Linked DNA regions of Homo sapiens. The protein of the gene in region 1 binds, or shares a complex with, the protein of each later gene. Each region holds a gene or a part of one and is shown on either strand. Other genes may lie near its edges. The genes, in order: MITF and EP300.

What was found.
Region 2: the proteins of MITF (region 1) and EP300 are in contact, whole or in part, in an NMR structure (PDB 8E1D), measured with the Homo sapiens proteins. Residues at the interface, in NP_001341533.1 of Homo sapiens: Val226, Ile230, Leu233, Glu234, Ser235, Tyr237, Asn238, Glu239, Glu240, Ile241, Asp246; in NP_001420.2 of Homo sapiens: Ala1723, Ser1726, Pro1727, Gly1728, Arg1731, Ser1734, Ile1735, Pro1780, Lys1783, Gln1784, Ala1787, Leu1788, Lys1794.

What each region holds. Positions count from the first base shown.
Region 1 is NC_000003.12:69,921,031-69,938,550, reverse strand, and holds part of MITF (microphthalmia-associated transcription factor), read right to left. Parts: intron 1,960-17,520; exon of another isoform or gene 1,829-1,959; coding exon of another isoform or gene 1,796-1,828; intron 730-1,795; coding exon 502-729; intron 200-501; coding exon of another isoform or gene 185-199; exon of another isoform or gene 1-184. UniProt on the Homo sapiens protein: Transcription factor that acts as a master regulator of melanocyte survival and differentiation as well as melanosome biogenesis.
Region 2 is NC_000022.11:41,151,558-41,160,175, reverse strand, and holds part of EP300 (histone acetyltransferase p300), read right to left. Parts: intron 8,344-8,618; coding exon 8,164-8,343; intron 7,971-8,163; coding exon 7,826-7,970; intron 5,182-7,825; coding exon 5,063-5,181; intron 3,008-5,062; coding exon 2,768-3,007; intron 1,765-2,767; coding exon 1,676-1,764; intron 1-1,675. UniProt on the Homo sapiens protein: Functions as a histone acetyltransferase and regulates transcription via chromatin remodeling. Acetylates all four core histones in nucleosomes. Histone acetylation gives an epigenetic tag for transcriptional activation.

The DNA.
Region 1 (17,520 bases):
GTCTCATGTGCTATATGATTCAAATCCATCCATGCATATTCCATTCTTTCTTCCCCCAACTCAGGGAGAAATAAAAATAATATTCCAGACATTCACAACAAGCGGAACTTCTAAACAGCATGTCCCACACCTCTTCTATTTTTGCTTTTCCTTTTCCACCTCCCCTTCTCCTCTCTCTGCATTCTCACTGCTTCATAAACTGAAAGGCATGGAAGAGAAGAGAGCACTCAGCTAAGGAAGAAGAAGCAAGTGGCAAAAGTGTCCTCGCCTCCACATTTCACTTGGAGAGGGCCAGGTCTCCCGTCATGTGCTCTACACCCAATAACCCAGCGATGGAGACAACAGGCTGGAATGCCACAGCCACGATGGTGAATCGGGGACAAAGGCTGGTAAATGTGGCCACAAGGACAAACTAGAGTCCACAGTTAAGTGTGGGAATCATATTCAACAGACAAGTTATTTAGCATAAGAAAACAGGAGAGGAGAGGAGACATGAATTACCTCTTTTTCACAGTTGGAGTTAAGCGTAAGCATAGCCATGGGGCTGTTGGGTGCGCTGCTCCCCGGCACCGGTGGCATGACATGATCGCCAGGCTGGTTTGGACATGGCAAGCTCAGGACTTGGTTGGCATGTTTATTTGCTAAAGTGGTAGAAAGGTACTGCTTTACCTGCTGCCGTTGGGCTTGCTGTATGTGGTACTTGGTGGGGTTTTCGAGGTGGGTCTGCACCTGAACATAGCCATGGAGGGAAAAGAAAACAGCGCTGTTATTTGTGAGTTTCAGACGGCTCTTCCTTCAGGCACAAACATGAAACTGACCAGGCCACCAACAGAATAAATTATTAAGCCTTTGTTATGTACCAGGCACTGTGCTAACGGATTTTGATATTACTGAAGTTTAAAGTCTAACTAGTAGGATTTGGTGTAATACTTTGCCCTATTTTATTTCCCTGCTAATTAACTATACGTCTCTTTCAAACCTTGTATCCTTCTTCTCATATCTAATAATTAAAAGTTTGAAATTATCTTAGGGCAAAAATTTCCCCAACACACATGAAAGGGTTTATTAAGATCAAACAACAATGTAGAAGTGGCATAATTGTTTGTTTCACTTTCCTTGGCGAACAGAACAGCTTTCTTTTTAAAACACACACACACACACACACACACACACACACACACACACCTCCTTAAGAACCAACTGTGTAAAATGGCTGTAGAAAATAAATATAAATCTTCCAATGATTAAATCAACTAGTTGTGGATTAATTCTCCCACTTTTCATTTGGACATGATTATTCAACATTGTAATTAAGAAAAAACTCAACATAAAAAGCAATTCTACATTAAGTAGTTTCTTTCAAATGCATAACACTTACACGTATGTGTTTTAAAAGACATGACTATTAACAAGCCAACAGGATGTTTTTTCTCCTTTCCTACAGACATTAATTCAGAACGAGAAATACTTTTCCCCAAAAAACAACATTATTCAATTTTAAGTCACTTTTTTCTTGATAAAGACAATTTAATCTTATGAGCAATGAACAGGAGCTGATGAAGATAGTTTAGCCACACACTAGGCCAAAAAAAAAAAAAAAAAAGAATCCTACTAATATTTACTTTGTTCAAAACTACATTGAATTACTTCTTATGGCATCAAATAATAAACAGCATTAAAAGAGCAGATTTATACTTATTGAAAACAGTATGTCTATTACAATAACAAAAAGTGGATTAAATCAATTTATTGCATTATATTTCAAAGACTGAATATGAGTCAGAATAAATCTCACCTGATAGTGATTATATTCTAGCATTTCCAGCATAACAATGTTTTAGGTGGCACCAATCCAGTGAGAGACGGTAGACTATCCCTCCCTCTACTTTCTATAATTCCAATTTGAAGATGGACTGGCAAAGAGAAGGTACTATAAACAAGGTATCCCGAGACACCACCGGAAACTTTATCACAGAAGCCCTGCTTATAATAACCTAAGCTAATTAGTTATGCATGTAAAAAAAAACGTTCACATAAGGGCCTTTTTTTTGGAAGCCCTACGAGTTTGGTCTTAAATGTTGATATCAATTTTTCCCCCTGGCTTGACGTCATGCTTTTTTTCATAAATATAAAAGAACCTTTTTAAGTGACGAGCTATCAAAGTCAAACTCACTGTCAGATCAAGGCCAATTCACTATTCATCTTTAGTTCCAGTAGTATTAATAGACAATGGTATTTCTCTTTCAGCAATAGGTTAATAGCAGAATGCCCCTTTGGAGGAGACATCATCTAAAAGCTACTATTACATGAGACTTTTCCAATGGCCGAATAACTGCCACTTCCGACTGCAGGATGACTATCTTTTAGTATAGAAGAGAAGAGACTCTGTGCTGAATGTTCAAGTTCAACAGCCTCTTCTTGCATCCTGGTCTTAATATGCACCTTATTCTTAGCTACATAGATGTGTAACCTGCCTATTGACCTCACATCAGGAAGACCGGGCACTATCCTAAATAGAACATAGCACACACAGAAGTGGATATATATTTATGTGGATAATAAGAAATAAATATCTCCCCTATTTAATTCTCAAATGAAAAAAGCATGAGCATTTTTGCTGAGAATTTTTACATATTATTCTTAAGATTACAGAAGAATGAGTTATCATATACAACACTGATATATTTACATATTTATTCCTTTATTCATTCATTATTGACTGTTAAGTGCTAAACACTGTACAAAGCATAGAATATACATTGTGAACAAACAGATATAGTTTCCAGCTTTATGAAACTTATATTCTGGGGTGAGGCAAAAAAAGAAAAGAGGCAAGCAAATATATACTTATAAATTATGATAAATGCTTAATATCTACTGCTGACAAATGTTATGTTAAGCTAAAAATTTGAAGTTCAATAATGTTGTCTAAATGCCCAGGATAATGCAGTCCGTTAGGTTGACAATCTCATATTGTTTCAAATGACTGATTTAATATGTACACAGAGGTTCACAGAGATTTTTTTTTTATAAAGGGTCCAGACATGATAATGATGACAGTAGACATTACTAAAATAAACATAAAATGAGGGCAATGAGTAGAATGTGCTTATTTCACTATTACACTTAAAAAGAAAAGAGATTCATGTTTAAAAATAAATGTTAATTCACTGGCAGATCCTAATTCTTTAATGAATCAGAATATTATGCTTTAGTAAAGAAAGAAGCAATTTGCTTTCTATGTGGCACTGTCAGTGAGGTCTTTATTACATCCAGGTTTGGGTAAGCAGAATGGGATATATTTGGCTCTTTTACTGTTAATAACTTTTTATTTTTCACGTAAGTTGAAAGCAGATGGCCTATAAACACTATGCAGTAGACAGAACATCTCCAGCTGTTTCTAACCCAAATACCTCAAACAGGCAACATAAATGAGGAACATGAGCTACGAGGAAGGTAATAAGGAGTAGTGAGGTCTGTGGCAAACCAGAGGACACACATCTATCTAGCAGGAACAGCAGATAAAAACTGCAGCTGATTGTGGCCATGTGGGAATATGAGTCCAGCCTAGCTCAAAATCTCCAAATTTTTCAAGGGTAGCTGGCAATCCAAACTTCTTTTTTAAGTAAAATCCTCCAGGTTTAAAGATCCGATGCTCAACTGTTTTGTGTTTCACAGAGTACAAGCCTCGGCCCACAAACTACTAGAAAATAATCTCTATTTTACACTGTCTATAAGGATAATCTTCATATTTACATTCCCTTGGAGATAGCCTAGGTTATGGGAAGAAGTTTCTCTTCTGAGAAATTAGTCCAAATCCAGGCATTTCCTGGTGCTTCTTTGAAAGACAATGTGCCTGACAACACAGACAGTGGAGTTCTTAACTTGAAACCTGGGTTCAGATTCTATCTTTGCAACTTAACAACCCGTGTACCTTCTGCAATTCATTAACTTCTCCAGGCCCTCATCTCCTAGCATATTGAATGGGAATGACAGTAGAGCTTGCCTCATATGTGTGTTTTCTGCATTAAATGAGATCATGTTTCTAACGGCCTTAGCACAATATCTAAAACAGCAATTCTCAAACATTTTTGTCTTAGGATCCTTTTACACTCTTTAAATTTATTGTGTTTACATGGATTATATCTATCAATATTTAGCATATTAGAAATTAAAATTGAGAATTTTTGAAAACACACGATTATACATTAGTAGATATCTCACAGGATGTCAGAACAATGACATCTCAACACGACATGTAGCCTTCGGAAAACTCTATTGTTTACTGGTGAAATGAGAGTGAAAAAGGAAAACAATATCTTAGTGTTATTCTGAAATAGTCCAGATCTGGCAGAACTCCTGCAAGGGTCTTAGATACAACCAGGGCCCTCTGATCACACTTTGAGAACCCCTGATCTAGAATGTGGTTGGCATTCTAGCATCATCACTGCACCAGCAATGTCACTCCCCACTGTGGACAGGTGGTGTGTGACATAGCCTCTCTATGTTTACTTCCCTCCCTGAGAAGATGCTGGAGAAAGATACTAACCCTGTCCAAACTCCCTCATAGCATTATTATGAGGCTCTATAGCCCTTTGACAACTTAAAAAGCCATATAAATATAATTTTCTGTCTTCAGCCACCCTAATTCATAGCTTTTTAGTCAATAACTTTGCTTTCATTAATTTTTAAATAGCCAAAGAAGTATGCAAATGAGAACATATATGTAGCATTAAAGAGGACAGAAACATCTTTATGATTTCCTGATAATGTTTGCATGTTTTTGACTTTCCAGATGACTAACCACACTAAGAAATTCAGATAGCAAAAGTTGAGTACTGCTGAACACCTGAAGTATAGACAGCAAAATAAAGCTAGAATACTTTATCATAAAATATTATTTATTGATATAACTTATATTTCATATAAATTATGCTAGCTATCTGAGTTAAAGGGCAAACACCCAAAGGCTTTGTAACTTTTATTCATTGTTAGCACTCCTGTAATTTCACCTGTTTCCTTTCTTCATTCAGATCTTGAATGGATAGCAAGAGAATCGGAATGGATCACCTCCTAACTGTCACACTTCAGCTTTACCACTTCCTGGGTAAAACTGACAGGTTATTTTCCATCAGTTTCATTCTAAAGAGATCCTGGAGCACATCACATGTCAGTTTAAGATGGTAGCTATAGATACTACCATCTTGGCTGACAACAGAATTTACTGGGGAAGAAATATCCCTATCTAGATATCCACTATTCTTCTATTCTCTCTACTATTTGTAAACCAGAATTCAAGTAGAAGCGAGTGTAGATTTTCTTAATCCTTTTAGTTTATTTATTTATTTATTATATTTTTAGAGATAAGGGTCTTGCTATGTTGCCCAGGCTGGAGTGCAGTGGCTATTCACAAGTGCAATCATGGCACACTACAGCCTTGAACTCCTGGGCTCAAGTGATCTTCCCACTTCAGCCTCCTGAGTAGCTATGACATGCTTCTACACTCAAATGGCTTTATATATATATATTTTTAATAATTCAACAAAATGTTCAGATTTATCACTTATGTTTAGAGAGATAATTTGTTCTTTTGCTCAGCAAGTTTAAAGAAAACTAAAGGGATTACCCTTTAATCAATTGTTATCTATCACCACACCACTATTCTTTTCATACTGTTTTAAAAATGGCAATCCATAGAGAATGTCAGTTATGCAATCATATTTCCTGAAAAAAGCGGTAAAACAGAGAAAGCTAGCTTTCTTAAATAACTAGGATAGTCTTGCAAAAGGTCACATCTGATTAAGTGTCGAGGTTCTTTTCAGTCCCACAATTACATTACCACAAAAGAAAACAAAAGCCCAGAACATATATCCTTGGACATATAATCTTGTTTACTGTACAATCTGTACAAAGCTGTCCTTAACAAAAAGTAAAAACAACAAGGGTATGAATCCTGGCCTAAGGGAGAAGAATCAAAATCAGATGCAAATACAAAGCAAACCAAAGAGTCTTAAATAAAGAAAGGTTCGAAATGGCTATGGTTGACAAACCCAGTGCTTTTTCTCTACAACAGGAGTCTGTCCACCCATCAGCCCAACTCGGTCTGCTGCCTGTATGGTCTATAAAGTAAGAATGGATTTTACATTTTTAAATAGTTGAAAAAAAATGAAAAGAAGAATATTTCATGACACATGAAAATTATATAAAATTCAGATTTCAATGTGGATAAATAAAGTTTTATCAGAACACAGCCACACCCATTAGTTGACATGTTGTCCAGGGCGGCTCCCTTGCTGCAATAGCAGATTTGAAGAGTAGCAACAGAGTCTGCAGGGCCCCCAAGGCCTAAAATTATCTACATTGTGGCTTTTTATAGAAAATGCTGACCCCTGCTCTCTAGGAAAGTTTCACCAAACTAGAATTGAACTTTCCTACTCAACAGAAGTTTTAGCAGGATTTGAAGGAAAGAATGGGGTGATTTTAATAAAGAGAAATAGTATATGTATACGTAATTTTACAGTTGTTTTTCCAACTACTGTCTTAACTGGACAAGCATCTTTGTAAGAATACAGGATATGCTTAATTACCCCCCACCCTTTTTAAAGCTAAAGAAAACAGAAACTAAGAGGAAACCTAAACAACTTGCCAGGGTTAGAAACCATAGCCATGTCTCCATTATTCTGTCCGCAGAGGCGAACTAGAGAAGCTCCCTCTTCTGTGGGTCAGTTCTGATCTAGGACTTTAACTGAATAAGAAGGGAAGATAAAACTGTGTAAATCCAGGGGTGTATTCCAGGTGCATATTCCAGGTGCATATCCCAGGTGTGCACAAATAAATATATATACATTTATATCACATATTTATGGGTCTGTATACTTTCATACTACTTCCTGTCTTATTACATTGTAGGCTTCTGAATTCAGAGAATTGAGCTGTAAATATGTATAAAAGAAAAGGATAACAAATGTACTTTTCTGAAAATTTGATGTTAAAACAGAATAGACTAGACTAGCCCTATCAAAAATTCCCAGCAAGTCTTTTATCCTTAGCTAATGACCTATAAAACAGTATGCTTATTATAAACCACAAGACAGGCATACTTTGGTTTTAGGACAAACAATATTTAGTAGCCTCAGAAAAAAGGTGTTATCATAAGAAAATCCCTAATATATACATTATTTTTTTCTCCCTCAGGCTAAAATAAGCCAAAGACCATGATAATAAAAAGAACATGTGGTTTTATCTCAGCCGAATAGAAGAGAAAACCATTTCTCTTAAATGAGGGTCTTATAAGACATTATGAGTGGATATGTTACATTATATAGCACGATGTTTTAAAATATAAAGAACGGAATTAGTGCTCATTCTCTCAAACTTGTCTACCATGTACCAGATGCCATGCATTTTACATGCGCTCCTAGCTTATGTCAATTCAAAGTAAAAGTAAGAAAGATATGTGGAATAACCACATAAAATAAAAGTAAAAAAGATAGGGGGATAATCACATAAAATATTCTTGAAAGTCTCGACACAGTTTTCTTTTGCTTTTAAACTGTATCATAGCTTTCTGATTGAATACAGAAACAACCACTGAAGATATTTGATTTTGATTGTTTTAACTTCTTACTTTGAGTTGTTCCCATCTGAGAGAGTATACTCAATTGTCCTCTTGACATTCATAGAAAATTAAATACAGGACTGGGAGCAAATGTTAATGTGTACACAAATCACTGGAGGATCTTGTTAAATGCAGAGTGTGATGCCACAAGTCTGGGCTAGAGCCCAAGATTTCTGCATTTCTAACAAGTTGCCAGGGGATGCTGACCCAGCCGGTCCAGGGAACACACTACATCCCGAGCAGCAAGGCTTTCATATGTTCTCACCTGGACTGCTGCCTTCATCAAAAGTTATATGTTCACCATTCAATCAACAAATATTGCTTGAGCACCAACTAGATGCCAGGCAACTGTGCAAATCTTACACAGTGTGTTTAGGTAAGGGCCTCACAGAGTATGACATTGACGCCCAGACCTGAAGTTGGTGAGATGAGCCAGGCAGATTGGCAGGAACGGCATTCCAGCCAAGCATACAGCCCTCAGGTGTGAACAAGCCTTGGTTGCTCAAAGAACAGCAAGGAGGCTCTTAATACATGTTATTTACTTGGCTTTCGATTTACCACACTTGCCTGGTTTTTCTCTCACGTTCTTCATTTCTTCTCACTCTCCTTAGCTAGTTTTCTCCTCTTCTCCCCTCTAAATGTCAGAGTGCCTCAAGGATCCGAGCTTGATTTCATCTATCTACACTCCCAGCCCTGGTGATCGAACCCAGTCACATGGATTTAAGCACCCCAGAACAGAGGTCTCTGAGAACCAGACTCATCTCCACTGGCCTACGAGACGGCACCGTTTGGAGGACTGCAGACTCTCAAGCTCAGCATGTTCATCCACTCTTCCAAATTGGCTCCTCCCACGGTCTTCTGCATTTTCACAGTTGGCAACTCCATTTTTTTCTATTAGGTTGAAACATAGAAAATTGCCATTTTTGTTGGGGGCGGGGGTAGGTCAAAAAATGGTCTTCCTCTGGCTTAACCTAGTTGCTCATTCTACAAATCATGGTTATCTTTGACTCCTTTCTTTCATACCCTGGATCCAACCCATCAAGAAATATTGTTTCCATCTTCAGAAAATAATCAGAATATGATGGATTTTCATGCTCCACTGTTACCATCTGATCCAAGCCACCATCTCTTCAAACTTAGATGATGGAAAGCTTCCTGACTCTTCTACCTGCTTCTGTCTTGGCACTCTGACGGTGTATTTTCAATACAATGAATAGGGGGATCTTGTGATATTGTCAGATCAAGTCATTTCTCTATAGAAACTAAACCAAAACAAACAAAAAGAAAAACCCCACCTCTGTAATGGTTCCCTACTTATTTCTGAGAAAAAAAAACAAAAACAAAGTATTTGCAATGGCCTAGAAGTCCCTACATCAATGCTATTCACAGTGCTTATTAGAAATGCACATTCCAGGGCCCCAAACCAGAGCTAATGAATCAGAATCTCTGGGTATGGTGTTCAGAAATCCACACTAGCTTGTTAGTTCTCCACGTAGATTCTACAGACCCCTGTCCACTGTGCCTACTTCTCCCACTCCACCCCACCCCAGGAGCATTACCTCATTGACCTTGTCTCCTATAACTATCTTAAGGACATATTCACATATCCAGCCCACATGCTACCAGTGCTCCTGATTCTCCCTCCTCTGCTCTGCTTTGTCCAGAACACAGCTTGGCACACTGTGGGCACTCAGCAAGTATTTGGTACGTCAGTGAAGCAGTGTGGAACCACTGTGGCTGGCGTGCATGGATAAGGGGCAGAACCGAAGAACAAGGGGCCACATTGTGTAGGCAGGGGTTGTAGGCTAGGATTCTGACCACCTCTGGAAACGTCCTGAGGAAATGAAGTGTGACAGTCCCTCAGTCTTCCTAAGTTAGAAAGCTCTAGAGGAACTAAGTCTTCAGGCCAGGCAGTTGATTCACAGCCTGCCACCCTACTTCACATGATAAAGCTTCCTTATCTATCAGGGGCTGCCCAAAGATTGCCAATTCTTACAGCTCTCATCTAGCAGTACAACAAGCCAGTAGGGCCCTGTGGGTCTCAAATGACCGGCCGGAAGCCTGAGATTTGCTTTCACCTCTAGCTGTAGACCCCTAGATAAGTCACAGTTATTCCAAGGTCCCCAAGCTGGCAGTCCATGGACACAAACCACAGGCAAGTCTGTTCACCTAGACAGAATTTAGTGTTCTATGAATTTGTCACCAATGATGAAAAATTGGGAGTTTTCAACCCAAAATCTGGTTTCTCAAACCAGAGTTTGGATTTCTCTTTTCTGGTTGATAAATCAGAAGATCTAGAGATACCAAACTGCACTCCTACTGGGCCAGCAACTTATCAGAGTTGAAAAGCAACAGAGTTGAGAAGTAGCTTCTCCCTTTCAATGAGCACTTACTTTTCATTCTGCAACTCTCATCACTCTTTATTCTGACACTGACAACTGGACTACTTTATTCATTAACCCGTCTGATTCCTGAAGACTTTTAAATCTGCAAATCCTACCTTACCCATTCACACTTCATATCCCTGAACAAGGTTCCAAATCTGATAGAATGATGGTGGCGCAAGTGTGTTCAGAAAGCTACATGAAATGAACAATCTCATAGGAGAAAATAAAATAAATAGGTAGAACTGTAAAAGATAAAATAAAATAAACGGATATAAACTTTAAAAAGATACATACATGTTGCCCATGCAGCAATGGCTCTTTTCAAGAACTTTTCTAAGGAGATGATCAGATACGGGACAAAGATTTAGGTACACAGACATCTATTAGAGCATTATCTCTAACAGAAGTAGGTGGACTACTGCCTGGGGCATGCCGCCCATTTTTGTCAATAAGGTTTTATTGGAAAACATCCATACTTTCATTTAAGTATAGTCTATGGCTGCTTTCAAGCTATAACAGTACAAGAGCATAGTTGAGTAATGGACCCGACGGCCCCAAAAGTCTAAAACACTCTGTTTTTTATAGATAAAGTTTTTCAGCCATTAATTTCTAATAAAAAAATTGAAAACAAATATCTCATAGGCCATGGATTCAATTAATTATAAGGAAGCCATATAGTTCAGGCTTTCAGCCTCAGCACTATTGACACTGGAGCCAGATACTGCTTTGTTGTGGGGGTGATGTGTGAACTGCCTGCTGTCTCCCAGCATCCCTAATCTATACCCATTAGATGCCAAGTAACACAGCATGTCCCACTCCAGTTATGACAACCAAAACTGGCTCCAAACATTGCTAAATGCCTCCTGGGGACAAAACAGCCCTCAGTTGAGAACCACTACATATAAATGGATCCTATGCAGTCATTACAATCCACATTTTATCTAACAATTTTTTGTTTATTTCTTGTCTAGTACACTACATTGAATTTCATATATCAAATTTATTTTTTTTTTTACTTTAAGTTCTGGGATACATGTGCAGAACGTGCAGGTTTGTTACATAGGTATACATTTGCCATGGCGGTTTGCTGCACCTGTCAACCCGTCATCTAGGTTTTAAGCCCCACATGCATTAGGTATTTGTCCTAATGCTCTCCCTGCCCTTGTCCCCCACCCCTCAACAGGCTCCGGTGTGTGATGTTCCCCTCCCTGTGTCCATGTGTTCTCATTGTTCAACTCCCACGTATGAATGAGAACATGTGGTGTTTGGTTTTCCGTTACTGTGTTAATCTAACAATATTTAATGAGACGGAAAGTTCATTAATGTAAATGGGAACATAAAGCAGGTTAAAAACACTATACATGCTGCTATCCAAAATTGATTTTTAAATGCTATTTATATATATGCAAAGCCAAAAAAAAAAACTAATGACAAATTACTCGGTCAAGTCTCAACAATGACTATTCCCGAGCGATAAATTCTCAGTGATTGTTATTTTATTATTTTCTATAATGTACATGACACTGATTTTGTAATTTAAACAAGCTAGACATTCCATGAGAATGAAAGCCTACAGATCTGGACAAATGAAAATATATTCAGGCAGAATTCCTCTACTGAAAATTTTGCAAGCAACAAATAAACCCATGAAGGGGTTACACAATGGTGAAATTCGCCTTGTTTCAACTTTTTCTTGAACTGTTTGATCAGATGGAGAGGACTTTGTTTTTTCTGAAATTTTTGGTCTAACATTCAAGCTTGTACAGTTTGCATTTGTATAATATTTGACACATTTTTATGGTTTTTCCAAAGGCCACAATTACGTGGTTCAATAGTGCCTTTATAATGGCCCATTGTCAGGACCGTCCAGATCCCCCCCACCATGGGAGCTGCGAGTGCAGCATTCCACATGCTAGAACTTTTCCACGTGCCCCAGTTTAGCCCTGCCTCAGAATCGCAGACGTCTTTTTGTTGTACCATTTCCCCCCTCAAATGCCCCCATTGTTTGCAGTTTATCGGGTATTAGAGATGATTACAGCACAGGCAGAACAACTCCTTCTCATAAGTACCGACACTCTTAAGAAACTGGCAGTGGTCAAGTTTGTCAGAGATGAAAACATTGCCTTGGGCCTAAGCAAAAGGTCAGAAAGCCCCTAGGCAGAGATGAGAGCTGCTGAATGCTACTGGTTTGAAGGTCAAGCCCACATGAGCTAAAAACTGTCAAAAAGCAGCCATCTCCTAATAACACAACTTCAGGATCTATATCATGAGACTGAGGGTCCTTCTGGTTTTTGAGAAACTGCATTGGCTTGGGAAATTCTTAAAACTTGCCTTATAGATTATGTTATGATGAAGTTCCAGATTGGAATTAACCTCACCAACAACAGCAGCAGCTCGGCAGTGCTTTCCGACTGGGGCATGCACTGTGCTGAGAGCTTCGCATGCAGGTTTAATGTAACCATCCCCACTTAACAAACCATTCATTCATTCAACCAGGATTTACTCAGCACTCATCTAGGTGCTGAAGACTGAGCAGCAACTAAAGCACAGGCCCTGATTGCATGAAAATCATATTTAAGGTGGGGAAGCAGAGACAAACACAGAGTAATGAACCAACAAAGGAATAAGAATCTCATACAATGAGAAGTGCAATGCAGACAGTAAAAGAGAAAAAAAGGCCATTGCAACAAAGCTATTCTAGAAGCAACAAGTTGGGTGGAACCTCAATGATGAGAAGCCAGCTATGGTGAGGTACAGAAGAGATCAGATACTGAGGTAGGAAGCAGCCCAGCATATTGGATGAATAAGGACAAGATCAACAACCACAGAGCCAGCACTTTTGGAGTACTGACAAGGTCAGTGAGAGCCCTGAAAAGAATGTCTGGGCCAGATGTTGTAGGGCTTTGCAGGCCATTGAAAGGAATTTGATTTTTATTCTCTACTACTTGTAAGAAGCCATTGAGATGTTTTAATAAAGAGAATCAACATGATCTGATGAACACTTTGAAAATGCCCTTGGCTTCTTCTTGGCTTGCACTAAGTCTAATTTAAAAACAGCATAAACATTAAGAGACTTTCTTATATAATGCTCTGAAATGCCTCACGCCACCATGAAGAAGTTGTTATAAATGGTGCACACAGCTATAAAATACTCCACGTATGCCTGCTTGGGACACACAGCTAAGAATACGACCCACTGTCAGAGTAAAATGGAGAGATGCAGTTTAGTATTGTTAAACATCTGAATGGAATTTCAAATAGATCTGAGTTCAAATCCTGGGCAAGTTGCTTAAATGCTTTGGACCTCAGTTTTCTGTTTACAAAATGGGCTCATGGATCCTACCTACCTAATAGTTGCTGGAGATGCTGATAAGCTTAAGTGATGAGATGCATGAAAAGTACTTGGCACATAGTAAATGCTCAGTAAATAAATAATGTTCTCTATGATTGTTCACCTTGGAATTTTTGCTTTCACATCCAAGTGGATTAGTGTTAAATCATATAGCTCACAATCTCAAAAAAAATATAAAGCCACCAAGAAGGAGACGAGAGGACTTTAAAAGATGAAGGAAATATTCAGCCTCTTTCCTGTATCCTTTTATCTTTTTCTCTTTAGCTAACTCAAATATCATAGATGGATTGTGAGAGTAAGAGAAAAAGGGGAAAAACATGAACGTTAGAGCTGGGACACTTGCAGGCCACAGTCTCATACAGAAGGCTTTCGTGACATCTTTCCTCTCATACTTCCAAATGAGCTGGATCAGTCAGTGGTTCTCTTTAACTGGGTTTTAGGGAAATTGTAAATTCCTGAAAATTGTAAGCAAACTTTGACTGTACATTTTTCTGGGGAGAGGTTGAACAAACTACGAGACAGATTTAAAGATGAAATTATGTCTAGGATTTGCAAGTTAGAGGGAGGTATCCGTGAAACAGGATGAGCCGAGTCAATAACTCTCGAAGCTGGGTGATGGGTTACGCGAAGGGTTCATTCTATTATTCACTCTGCTTTCGTATAAATTTGAGACAACCTGTACATATTCACACAGTGCACACATATTTATGTATTTGATATTTTATTTTTATGTATTTATGTCCTCTTTCTCCATAAAAGGAAAAGTGTTATGGTAGCATGTTTACTAAGCAAGCACTTAGCACACCTATCAGCCTATTGCAAGTATCAAATATCTGCTTTTTAGCTTGCTATTCTGGACCTTCACCAGCAATTTTCTTCTAAGAGATCTGACTTGGTGTTGCATGAATTGATTATGGATTCAGGAGGATTCCTGTGATTCTTCTGTGGCGTTGCTGGCACGAGAACTCAGAGAAACATCTTGTTAACTAGCAAAATAAGCTGGATTTGCCCATGGAGTGCTCTCATTGATCTAATCAGGAATGTGTGTTTTAGCCACAAATGAAACATTTTTTAAAAAACTTGTGCAGGGGATACAGAACTGAATTCATATTGACCTTTTCAGATCAAAAAAATCATGACTACCTCTTTCAAACAAATTGGCCAATGATCTACATGGATGTCATCTAAAACACGTAATCAACTGAAACTTAAGCTTACATAGGTATTTAGGCAGAGCTTTATTTTTCCTCACTATAAAAAGTACTTTGCCAAAAAAAAACAAACAAAAACCTATGACTTATCATACTCTACAAAGCAAATTCTCAGAGATTTAAAATTTTTTGAAAATCTATAAAAATCTGTAAAGGGAGGACACACCTATACCAGGCCAATATATGTGGTTTGGATAGTCCCATTTGGATTTGTGTGATAAAAATAATGGATAATGCATATAAAGAGGAAGAGGATAGACTACTTCTTTGGAGAATATAGGTAGGAATTTTAAAGGAGGTAGGAAAATGGGAAGATATAGAGACTCCTCATAATTAGGAGAAGAATTAAAAAGTGAAAATAGGCTAGGTGTGGTGACTCATGCCTGTAATCCCAGCACTCTGGGAGGCCAAGGCAGGCCGATCACTTCAGGCCAACATGGTGAAACCCCATCTCTACTAAAAATACAAAAATTAGCCTGGTGTGGTGGTGTGTGCCTGCAGTCCCAGCTACTCAGGAGGCTGAGGCAGGAGAATTGATTGAACCCGGGAGGCAGAGGTTGCAATGAGCCAAGATCGCATCAATGCATTCCAGCCTAGGTGACAGAGCAAGACTCCATCTCCAAAAGAAAGAAAATAAAGCAATTACTGAGTGCTATGTTACAGGTAGTTTTTCTGAAAGTTTTCAATGGATTCACTTATTTAATCCTCATTACAATCCTACGAAGTAGCAGATGTTATTATCCCCATTTTCAGCATGAGGAAATTGAGGCTTACTCCTAATCACTTTATGAAACACTACCAAACTATGAGTTATTTACAGGATTCATATTTTCAACGGAATTATTTCTGCTTTTGAAACTGTTCAGAGGGCCTATGTAATCACTATTTCTTCTGAGTATTTGTTTTTGTGCTTTATTATAAATAAGGCTTCTCCTGAGAATTTGGTCCCCCGCTGGGTGGACACTGTTGTTAAACCAAAACGCTACCCAATTCCAAAGTGAACAGAATCAGCCCCTCAAGCCAGCAACGGGTCAACAAGGACAGGACCTAACAACGGAGAAAGTCAATATGGACATTTGTTCTGGGAAAACTGCCTTAGGACTTTGACTAATTTAAGGGTTGAGGGTTTGTTTCTTTCTTTCTTTCTTTGTGAGAAGGATGAGATGAGGGGGCTGGTCAGTCAGCAAACAAACAATCTTCCAGACTCAATGGCAATTTTTGTTAACCAAAGGCATCTCAGTATCATGAGATTTGTAAAGGAAAGGTTAAAATACTGTATGATATAGTAATGTCTTTTATAAGAAAGAAAATAGGCCACTGTATCACTGAAGTACCAGTTGTTACGTACTCAGTTGTGAAGCAGTAACAAAAACGGGAAGAAGAGAAATGTCAAGACTGCCCTTTTGTTAAAAACCCACTATATTATGTGGCTTGGATAAAAACAAAAACTAAAAAGCAATGGCGGCCGGGTGTGGTGGCTCACTCCTGTAATCCCAGCACTTTGGGAGGCCAAGGCAGGTGGATCACAACGTCAAGAGATCGAGACCATCCTGGCCAACATGGTGAAACCCTAACTTTACTAAAAATATAAAAATTAGCTGGGTGTGGTGGCATATGCCTGTAGTCCCAGCTACTTGGGAGGCTGAGGCAGGAGAATCACCTGAACCCAGGAGGCAGAGGCTGCAGTGAGCTGAGATTGTGCCACCGCACTCCAGCCTGGCGACAGAGTGAGACTCCGTCTGAAAAAAAAAGCAATGGCATAGTCAATCCTCAAATCTCTATATATTGTGTGGTAGACAGAAAAGAAAGCGAGACCTCAACATGAAAGAAAATACTTCATTTCTATCATCAAGGGGCTTACAACCCAAGGGTTAGGTGGGGGAAACAGGGAGAGTAACCCACACAGAAATTTACAGTAAGGTGCTCCTGCCTATTAAGATGGGAGCTCTCAACTGTACAGGCAGTTTTGCCCTTCAAGGAATTTTAGGCAATGTCTGGAGATACTTTTGGTTGTCATAACTATGTGAGGAGGGGGTGCTACTACCGGCATCCAGTATGCGAGAGTCCAGCGGTGATGCTAAACATCCTACGATGCACAAGACAGCCTTTCAAAACAAAGACTCTTTCGTCCCAGTGTTAATAATGCCACAGTGTAGAAATCCTATCCTAGAAGAGGCTGTGCCAATTTCCTTCCCGACTCCTTTCAGTGGCAGATTTCAGAAAAGGCACAGAAACTAGTCAAGCCCCAGGAATGGCACAGGTATCTCATGAACTATTGACATGCTTCCTTCTTATATCTGATATTCACAGTTATCAAGAGTTATTTCACATCTTGTCTTGACATGCAAAGGAGATGTTTCTAGCTAATTGGAGGGTGCAGGAAACGTCATCTTCACTGTAAATAGCCTAATTCAATACTCAAGAATTCATACTGATTTGAGTTCTGGACAGTCAGATGGACAGGAAAAGCTATGCTATAAATCAAGAACGATCAATTCAACACAATAATGATAAACTATGCCCTAAAACTATATAGAATGAAGCTGAACAATTCTAATGTTTCAAAAAGCACACTAGGAATCTGCTTTTGGTGTTTCTGAGTCATTCCGAACATCAACTATGAGTGCATTATTGATATCTGAGAGTGTCACTTAAAAGTCTCTTATGTCTGATAAAATAGTAAATAAAGGAACGTTACTATACTTGCAAACAAAACCAGAAGTTGGCTAATGCTTAGCTTACAATAAGCTTACGGAGTTTCACATATAGCCTCCTTACTCTCCCAAATTCTCCATGATAAAACAGCAAATCAGCCGGGTGCAGTGGCTCACGCCTGTAATCCCAGCACTTTGGGAGGCCGAGGCAGATGGACTGCCTGAGGTTAGGTGTCCGAGACCAGTGTCTGGCCAACATGGTGAAACCCTGTCTCTACTAAAACTACAAAAAAATTAT
Region 2 (8,618 bases), on another chromosome or scaffold:
GCAATTAACGCTATGTGATGTAAATAATCAAAAGGAGGAAGAAGGATAAATATACCAGGGAGAGAAGAACTGCTACTCATTACCTAAATACAGGAATCACACCTCTTCCCACTTACAAAACAAAAAACCACAGACCCCCACCCCCCACCCCAAAAGCCCACTATAGATACAACTGCAGAAAACAATAATCTAAAACAACCATTGCCAGGCGTGGTGGCTCATACCTATAATCCTAGCACTTTGGAAGGCTGAGAGGGTGGATCATCTGAGGTCAGGAGATCGAGACCAGCCTGGCCAACATGCTGAAACCCTGTCTCTACTAAAAATACAAAAATAAGCAAGGCATGGTGGCACACACCTGTAATCCCAACTATTTGGAAGGCTGAGGCAGGAGAATCGCTTGAACCCGGGAGGCAGAGGTTGCAGTGAGCTAAGATTGCGCCACTGCACTCCAGCCTGAGTGACAGAGTGAGACCCTGTCTCAACAAAGAAAGAAAAAAAACTGTTTATTGAAAAGCCTGCACAAGCAGTTAAATACTGACTACAGCCATCAAGTGATACATTTCAAAAGGAAATGATGTGTGCAGGTACCTGATTAAAGATGGCTTGGTGCAAAGATAAACACTTTAGACTACTGTTTTAGTAAACATGAGAAAAGTTTCATGTCCAGTTACTTGCTTTTTTAAACATAAGGTACTTATAACAACTTGAGTCCCACCTTTTCTAGGTTTCAAATGAGTAAAGAGCTAGATTTTTACTCACTGCAAAATCAAAGCATTAGGTCTACAAAGCATTAGAAGCACGCCTAACTTTTTGTAAATAAAAGAAAAAGTTTAAGTGACTTTTCAAAGCTAGAAATGCATCTGCAACACACAAGTTCAGCAAAAACCAACACCATGGATTTGGTATTAACAAACAAATAAAGGGTATTAATATCATCCAGCCTTGTTATTATTGTATCAGAGCCCCAAATAAACACCCAATGCAAGCTATACTTGTAGCTGATCACTGAAAACAGGAGACAAATTGTGGTTAAGATAGATTAGTGAATGAGATTTATGTGATTACAGCCATTGATTGGGCAGGAGAAAATTAGGCAGAGGTGCCTCGTTTATTAGACTCAAATCATCCTCTGTCACATACAAGGCTGGGTTGGGAAAAGTAAGGTACAGAGAGCTATGTGAGGTTTTCCTTTTAATTTGCTTAATATGAGGCAAAGAAAAGACTCCAGAATCCTGTTTTCATATATTCTAATAACAACTACTTAGGGATAGGCCTCATCTAAAAAGGAAATATTTCCAAAAAGCTGTCTAGCGAGTTTCAGTTAAAAGTTTAAAAATCTTCTCAGTTTTGCCTCAGGCTGTGGTGATCAACAAACACACAGTAGAAAGAGAAGTGGGGCCTGGGATATAGACCCATCTAGGCCAACAACTCACAAAGTTGCTTAACTTCTCAAGCTCTTGGGAGGAACCCAGGTAACTGATGCAAGGCTACTCTGATAGAAAATTTTATTGTTCTGCAAACAAAGGCAGAAGGCAAAAAACAGAACTTGTGCTATACAGCTGTCTTCAAGCAAGATACACATGAACCATGACTGTATGTGTGCTGGCCCATCCGCATGCACTCCCTGGACATGTGGACACATGGACCATGGTCCACACCTGGCCAAGCTTACCTGTTCTGGTAACTGTAATAAGTGGCATCACGAGGTATTGTGCACAACTGTTTGCCGTAGCAACACAGTGTCTGTGGAGAGAACTCCAACTGCAAAAGAAACCATTTGTTAAAAAGCACAGAGGCCTTAAGGACAAGCTAGAACAGTAAGAATGGCAAGTCAGAAACAGAAGTCAGTGGTGTCTTAGTTCTCATTTATGTTAATAATGATGGGCTAATTCAGTTCCTGAAAATCATTCTCAGTTTACTACCACATTATTTCAAAACGCTGAGGTAGGCTTAGCAGTCATATCCTTCCATCACTTTACCAAAGAACCTAACAGGAATAGCTGGGCAGGGTGGCACATGCCTGCAGTGCTCAGAAGCTGAGGTGGGAAGACTGCGTGAGCCCAAGAGTTCCAGACCAGCTTAGGCAACACAGCAAGACCATAGTCTTATTTTAAAAACAAAAAACCAATAATGTGAATTGGTATGTACAGGAAAGCCAGCACATGCTGAGGAATCTGCACCCACAGGTGAATATAAGAATGCCCCTACTCCAGATGAGTTAACAGTCTGTTGATTATTTAATTAGTCAACTTTTCCATACAATTGCCACTCTGAAAAAATGCCTTTAAAGAAAGCCCATTTCATATTAAGAGATATTACTACTGTGGCACACAGTAAGAGAAAGACTGTGTTGGCTGGGAGAGGTGGCTCATGACTGTAATTCCAGCACTTTGGGAGGCCGAGGCAGGAGGACTGCTTGAGCCCAGGAGTTCAAGACTAGCCTGAGCAACATCATGAGACCCTGTTTCTACAAAACAAATTTAAAAAATCAGCCAGGCATGGTGGCGTACGGCTGTAGTCCCAGCTGCTCAGGAGGCTGAGGTGGGAGAATTGCTTGAGCCCAGGAGGTTGAAGCTGCAGTGAGCTATGACCTCACCACTGCACTCCAGCCTGGGAGAATAAGACCCTGTCAAAAAGGAAAAAAAAAAAAAAAAAAAAAAGCCATGTCAAAGCCAGAAGCAGGATATTCTCTTATCCCAGTCACCACTATATTATTCTAGGTATCCCAGAAAAGTTAAAGTCAAATCTGAAACACATTTCTTACCTTTCTGCCACAACAGTATCCAAGGCTTTGCATCACTGGGTCAATTTCTTGTTCAAAGACCTCAGAGAGCTTGGAGCAGTATTTGTATACCCGTGATGTTTTCCGGTTATATAACCAGGCATTATTGAACATAAGCCAAATATCATCGACATACTGCCAGGGCTCCTGATACTGTCCAGTGTCTAACTTCCTCTTAATGGTAGAAAGATCCATGGGGCTCTTCACAATATCAAAGTAATCCTAGAAAGACAAGTGACATCAAACATTACTCAAGTCTCACTATTTTTACGGGAGATGGAGTATCATCCATTATCATTGTTAATTTTCCAGGCAGTGTTTTAGTTTCTGGCCTGTCTATATTCCCCAAGAGGTGACTGATGTCCATCACTTCTTTAAATATTAGTTTACAGAGATATTAAACTACTCAAAGGGCAGAGAAACAGAACTACTATGGACTTTCTAGACATCAGGCTGATATTCTACTGAAGCAACTTCAGGTTCTTTATGAAAGTACATGTGAGATCAGTAAAGTCAAAGACATTTAAAATTTTAGTACTAGAAGGGGTGTACAATGAGGAAACTAAGCCCACAGAACTTAAAATGTTCCATCTGAAATCACAGCAAGATACAAGAGAGGAAAAGTCCTAAAAGGCTTTTGCCCCTGGAAGCACTTGACCTTTGAGATGGAGTCTCTGTCAACATGTTGCCCAGGCTGGAGTGCAGTGGTGCAATCTTGGCTCAGTGCAACCTCTGCCTCCCAGGGTCGTTCAAACTATTCACCTGCCTCAGCCTCCCAAGTAGCCAGGATTACAGGCGTGCACCACCACGCCCAGTTACTTTTTATATTTTTAGTAGAGATGGGGTTTCACCATGTTGGTGAGGCTGGTCTCCAACTCCTGAACTCAAGTGATCTGCCTGCCTTGGCCTCCAAAAGTGTTGGGATTACAGGCGTTAGCCACCGTGCCCGGCCAAGTAACAGTTTAAAACCACCAAATGAAATCTGCCAGCAGCCTAGTATATGGAGGCAACTTTAAAAACAAAGCTAACCACGGTCCTTTTTTCTGCTATGACCTATTGCTCTTGAAACAACGAAAGTGGCCGGGTGCGGTGGCTCACGCCTGTAATCTGGGCATTCTGGGAGGCCGAGGTGGGTGGATCATCTGAGGTTGGGAGTTTGAGACCAGCCTGACCAACATACAGAAACCCCATCTCTACTAAAAATACAAAATTAGCCGGGCATGGTGGCACATGCCTGTAATCCCAGCTACTCGGGAGGCTGAGAGGTAGGAGAACTGCTTGAACCCGGGAGGGGGAGGTTGAGGTGAACTGAGATTGCGCCATTGCACTCTAGCCTGGGCAACAAGAGTGAAACTCCATCTCAAAAAAACAAAAAACAAATAACAACAACAAAAAAGTAAACAAACTATATAACCCAGGAATTCCACTCCTAGGTAAATACCAAGGAGAAATAAAAACTTAAATCCACACAATGTTCACTACAGTCCTATCTTAATAGTCAAAACGTGTAAACAACCTAAATGTCTATCAACTCATCAACAGGTAAAGAAAAATAATGGAATATTATTGGGCTATAAATAGGTATGTGCTACTGATTCATGCTACAACATGGATGAACCTTGAAAACATTATGCTAAGGAACGTCCTGGCACAAAGAATCACATACTGTATGTTCCAATTTAATGAAACATGTAGAACAGACAAATCCAGAGACAGAATGCAGTCTGGTGATGTCTAGGATTGGGGTGCTATGGGAGAAAATAGTGAGTGACTGTTAATGGTAAAGGATTTTTTTCAGATGATGAAAATGAAAGTGTCATGCACAACTCTGTGAATATACTAAAACTCCCTGAATTAGGCCAGGCCCAGTGGCTCACACCTGTAATTCCAGCACTCTGGGAGGCTGAGATGGGCCTATTGCTTGAGTCCAGGCGTTCAAGACCAGCCTGGGCAACATGGCGAAACCCCGTCTCTACTAAAAAATACAAAAAACTAGCCAGGTGAGGTGGCACATGAATGTAGTTATCCCAGCTACTCAGGATGCTGAGGTGGGAGAATCACCTGAGCCCGGGAGGTGGAGACAGTAGTGAGCCACGATCGTGCCACTGCACTCCAGCCTAGGCAACCAGAATAAGACCCTGTCTCAGGGGGAAAAAAAAAAAATCACTGAATTACAAATTTGAAATGAGTGGCTATACTGTTTGGAATGTGAATTATCTCTCAATAAAGCTGTTATCAAATTAAAAAATAAAATCAAAAGTACCACCAAATACTTACAGGGATTCCTAAAAGCTGAGGGTCCACAGGTTGACGAAAGGGAAGGGATTCTGGATCCTGACGGTAAAGTGCCTCCAAAGTTGGCATCAGTGCCTGTCGTAGTTCTTCTGGTTTGAAAACTTAAAAAAAAAAAGTGCATTTGAAATTAGTTACCAATTAAGCAGAAGAACTTTAAAAAATCATTCAGCCTGAAGCTCTAAAAGCATCTCAAGAATCAATAACAAAATTAACCACTCTGTCCCCATGGAAATATCACTACAGGCTCAATCACTGATTCTAGATTCTAAGCCCCGCTTTGTTTCAGACAGCTCCTAAAAAACATTGTGTCTTATCACCTTAAAACACTCTTCACCCTCAGCTTAACTTTTCAGTCACAAAGTCAGTGAAGACAGACTCGGTCAATTAGAAGCAGAATCCAAAGGCTTCTAAAAATTTATGAAGAGACTTTGCCAAATAAGAGTCCATGGGACCAGGCACGGTGGAGGCTGAGGTGGGCAGATCACTTTGAGGTCAGAAGTTTCAGCCTGGCCAACATGGTGAAACCTCGTCTCTACTAAAAATATAAAAAATTAGTCGGACATGGTGGCATGCTAGTCTCAGCTACTCAGGAGGCTTGAGGCAAGAGAACTGCTTGAACTCGGGAGGCAGATGTTGCAGTGAGCCGAGATGGCGCCACTGCACTCCAGCCTAGGCAACAGAATGAGGCCCCATCTCAAAAAAAAAAAAAAAAAAAAAAAGAGTGCACAAGATACTCGTGTTAAGAGGGAGATGCAGTCAAGCAAGAACAGAAAAGTCTTTCTTCATGACATCAGTATTTAACAAGTCAGAAACTAGACTAGATCAGGTATTGTCTTATACTACAAGGAGTCAGGGGCACAGAAGAGAAGACTCCTTCGTTCAAATGCTTGGTATTTTAGAGCCAAAGAAAAAGAGACATGTACTATTTTAATGACAAATGTTAGGTTTAAGTTTAAAAGAAGAGAGAACAAAAATGGTATTGCTAAAATAATAGACTTAGTTGATCAAATTAAGTTCAAATGTGTTCTCAATGATATTTCCCAAAAAGTCCGGAAAAATTTGTTGGTGTGTCCCAAATGGAATCAAACAGTTCTTTGAGAAGCCAGTGATTTAAAAAGCTTTCAATTTCAGCAAGGGCCTTATTTTTTCTTAATTGGCAAAAAAAATTTCATCATCGGTAGAGTATATTTGTTACTTCAGATAATTTTCACCTCTGGGGGGTTGCCATGGAGTGGGGGGAAACCAGACTACGAAGATGCTTGTCACTCATATTTAGCTGTGCTAAAAATAAGGACTATTTGAATAAACTTGTGAAATTAGACATTTTATTTTATTTATTTGTTTGAGACAATTACTCTCTGTCACTCAGGCTGGAGTGCAGTGGCGCCATCTTGGCTCACTGCAACCTCCTTCCATCTCCCGGGTTCAAGTGATTCTTCTGCCTCAGCCTCCCAAGTAGATGGGACTACGGGTGAGAGCCACCACACCCGGCTAACTTTTGTACTTTTAGTAGAGACAGAGTTTCACCATATTGGCCAGGCTGGTCTTGAACTCCTGACCTCAAGTGATCTGCCCGCTCGGCCTCCCAAAGCGGTGGGATTACAGGCATGAGGGAACACACATTTTAAAGAGAGATTGCCAATAGTAAGACTGGGTTTGTTACAGCCCATATTAAAACACCTCAATATATACAAGTCTTATTTTTAAAATGAAAATAATTTTTTAATCCCAACATTTTACAACACATTGTATTAATGGAACACTTTTCAATATATATCATCTGTAAGAGCCAGCAGACTCACTCCTCAGGTATGTCCTACCTGGTGCCTTTTGCAGATCACTAGAGCCACAAAAGTTCTAGTCCTAAAATAGTCAATTAACACTTGTTGGAATGGCTGGATTTGAGCACTCTGCCTCAGACTGCCTGGGTCTGCTTCCTGGCCCAGGCAGTAGGGTCAGCTGAGTAACCTGTGGAAAGTTACTTAACTTTGCTAAGCTTCAGGCCAATAACCTCAGAGCTGTTGTGAAATTATTAAATGAGGCCGGGTGTGGTAGCTCATGCCTGTAATCCCAGCACTTTGGGAGCTCGAAGCGGGTGGATCACCAGGTCAAGAGATCGAGACCATCCTGGCCAACACGGTGAAATCCTGTCTCTACTAAAAATACAAAAATTAGACGGGCATGGTGGCATGCGCATGCAGTCCCAGATACTCGGGAGGCTGAGGCAGGAGAATCGCTTGAACCTGGGAGGTGGAGGTTGCAGTGAGCTCAGATCCCGCCACTGCACTCCAGCCTGAACAACAAAAGTGAGAATCCGATTCCAAACAAAAAAGAAAAGAAAAAGAAAGAAAGAAATTATTAAATGAGACAATGTGGATACTTAGCACACAGCAGGTGAATGACAAATGCTATTACTATTGCTATTCTTTCCTGCATTTTAGTCAAGGCTATTTACAAACATTTCTCTCTCCTGAAAAATGAGACAATTTTTAGGGTGTACTAACACAGGGAACCCTGAAGAAATGAGGGGAATGACTTAACTCATTGGTTGCTGCAAGTGAATATTAAAAAAAAAAAAAAGAAAGAAAAATTATTAGTAACAATGAAGAGACCAGGCCCAGGGCTTCCAGGTTAATGAAATCACAATAATGGCAACTTCTGAGGCCCAAGAGGCATGACCGCAATTCTGCCCTGGGTCTTTGGTTTCTTCAGCTACCTCCAGAACGAATGGCTTCAGAGACTCACTCTTTTTCTTTGACTGTCCTGGAGCCGGAGATGACTGGGTAGCTGAAGTACTTGGCTGGTCTTCCTCCTCTTTTATTTCAGTTTTTAACTCAGTGCTTCTCTCTTCTGTTTCGGTAGATTCCATTTTACAGTCTTCCACTTTAGACTAAAAGAAAACGTAAGAATTTTTAGTATTCCAAAGATATCTAGTTGGGAATCAGTAATCTGAACACCCTTTCTCATGCAAAATCTATGCCATGAGATCTAATTATCAAAATATTTTTCTGCAATATTTTTTAAAACTTGGGTTCCTATACTGAGGTCCTAACCAAATCAAACAGTAATTGCCCTACTCTCACCTCTGAAATATCCTCCGGCTGAGTATCTGCTGGTTCTGGTTGATCCACTTCCATTTTGGCCTCCATCTTCACTTCCTGGGAAGGCTGCTTCTCAGCAATGGCCTGAGAATTCACTTCTGTGCTACTAGTAGATGGAGGATTTGATACCTGTCCTTCAATGCTTACAGCTGGCTGGGAAAGCTGGGCAGAAAAAAAAGGGAAGTAGGTGAGACACACGCAGAGTCTGCCAACGATACAATCAGAATGTAAGGTAAGCAACAGGATAGCAGAATTAGCCACCTATTTCTTGGCTTATATTTATTCATGGTGCTTTCATTTGCTCTGCCCATTTCACCTCCCTTAATTATGCTTAAGAACAGGAGAATTAAGACTTGTAAATACTGGTTGGCTGATTGTACATCAAAGAACCAGCAACTATTTCATTGATAACTATCATTATCTGGCAGTGTGTGGGG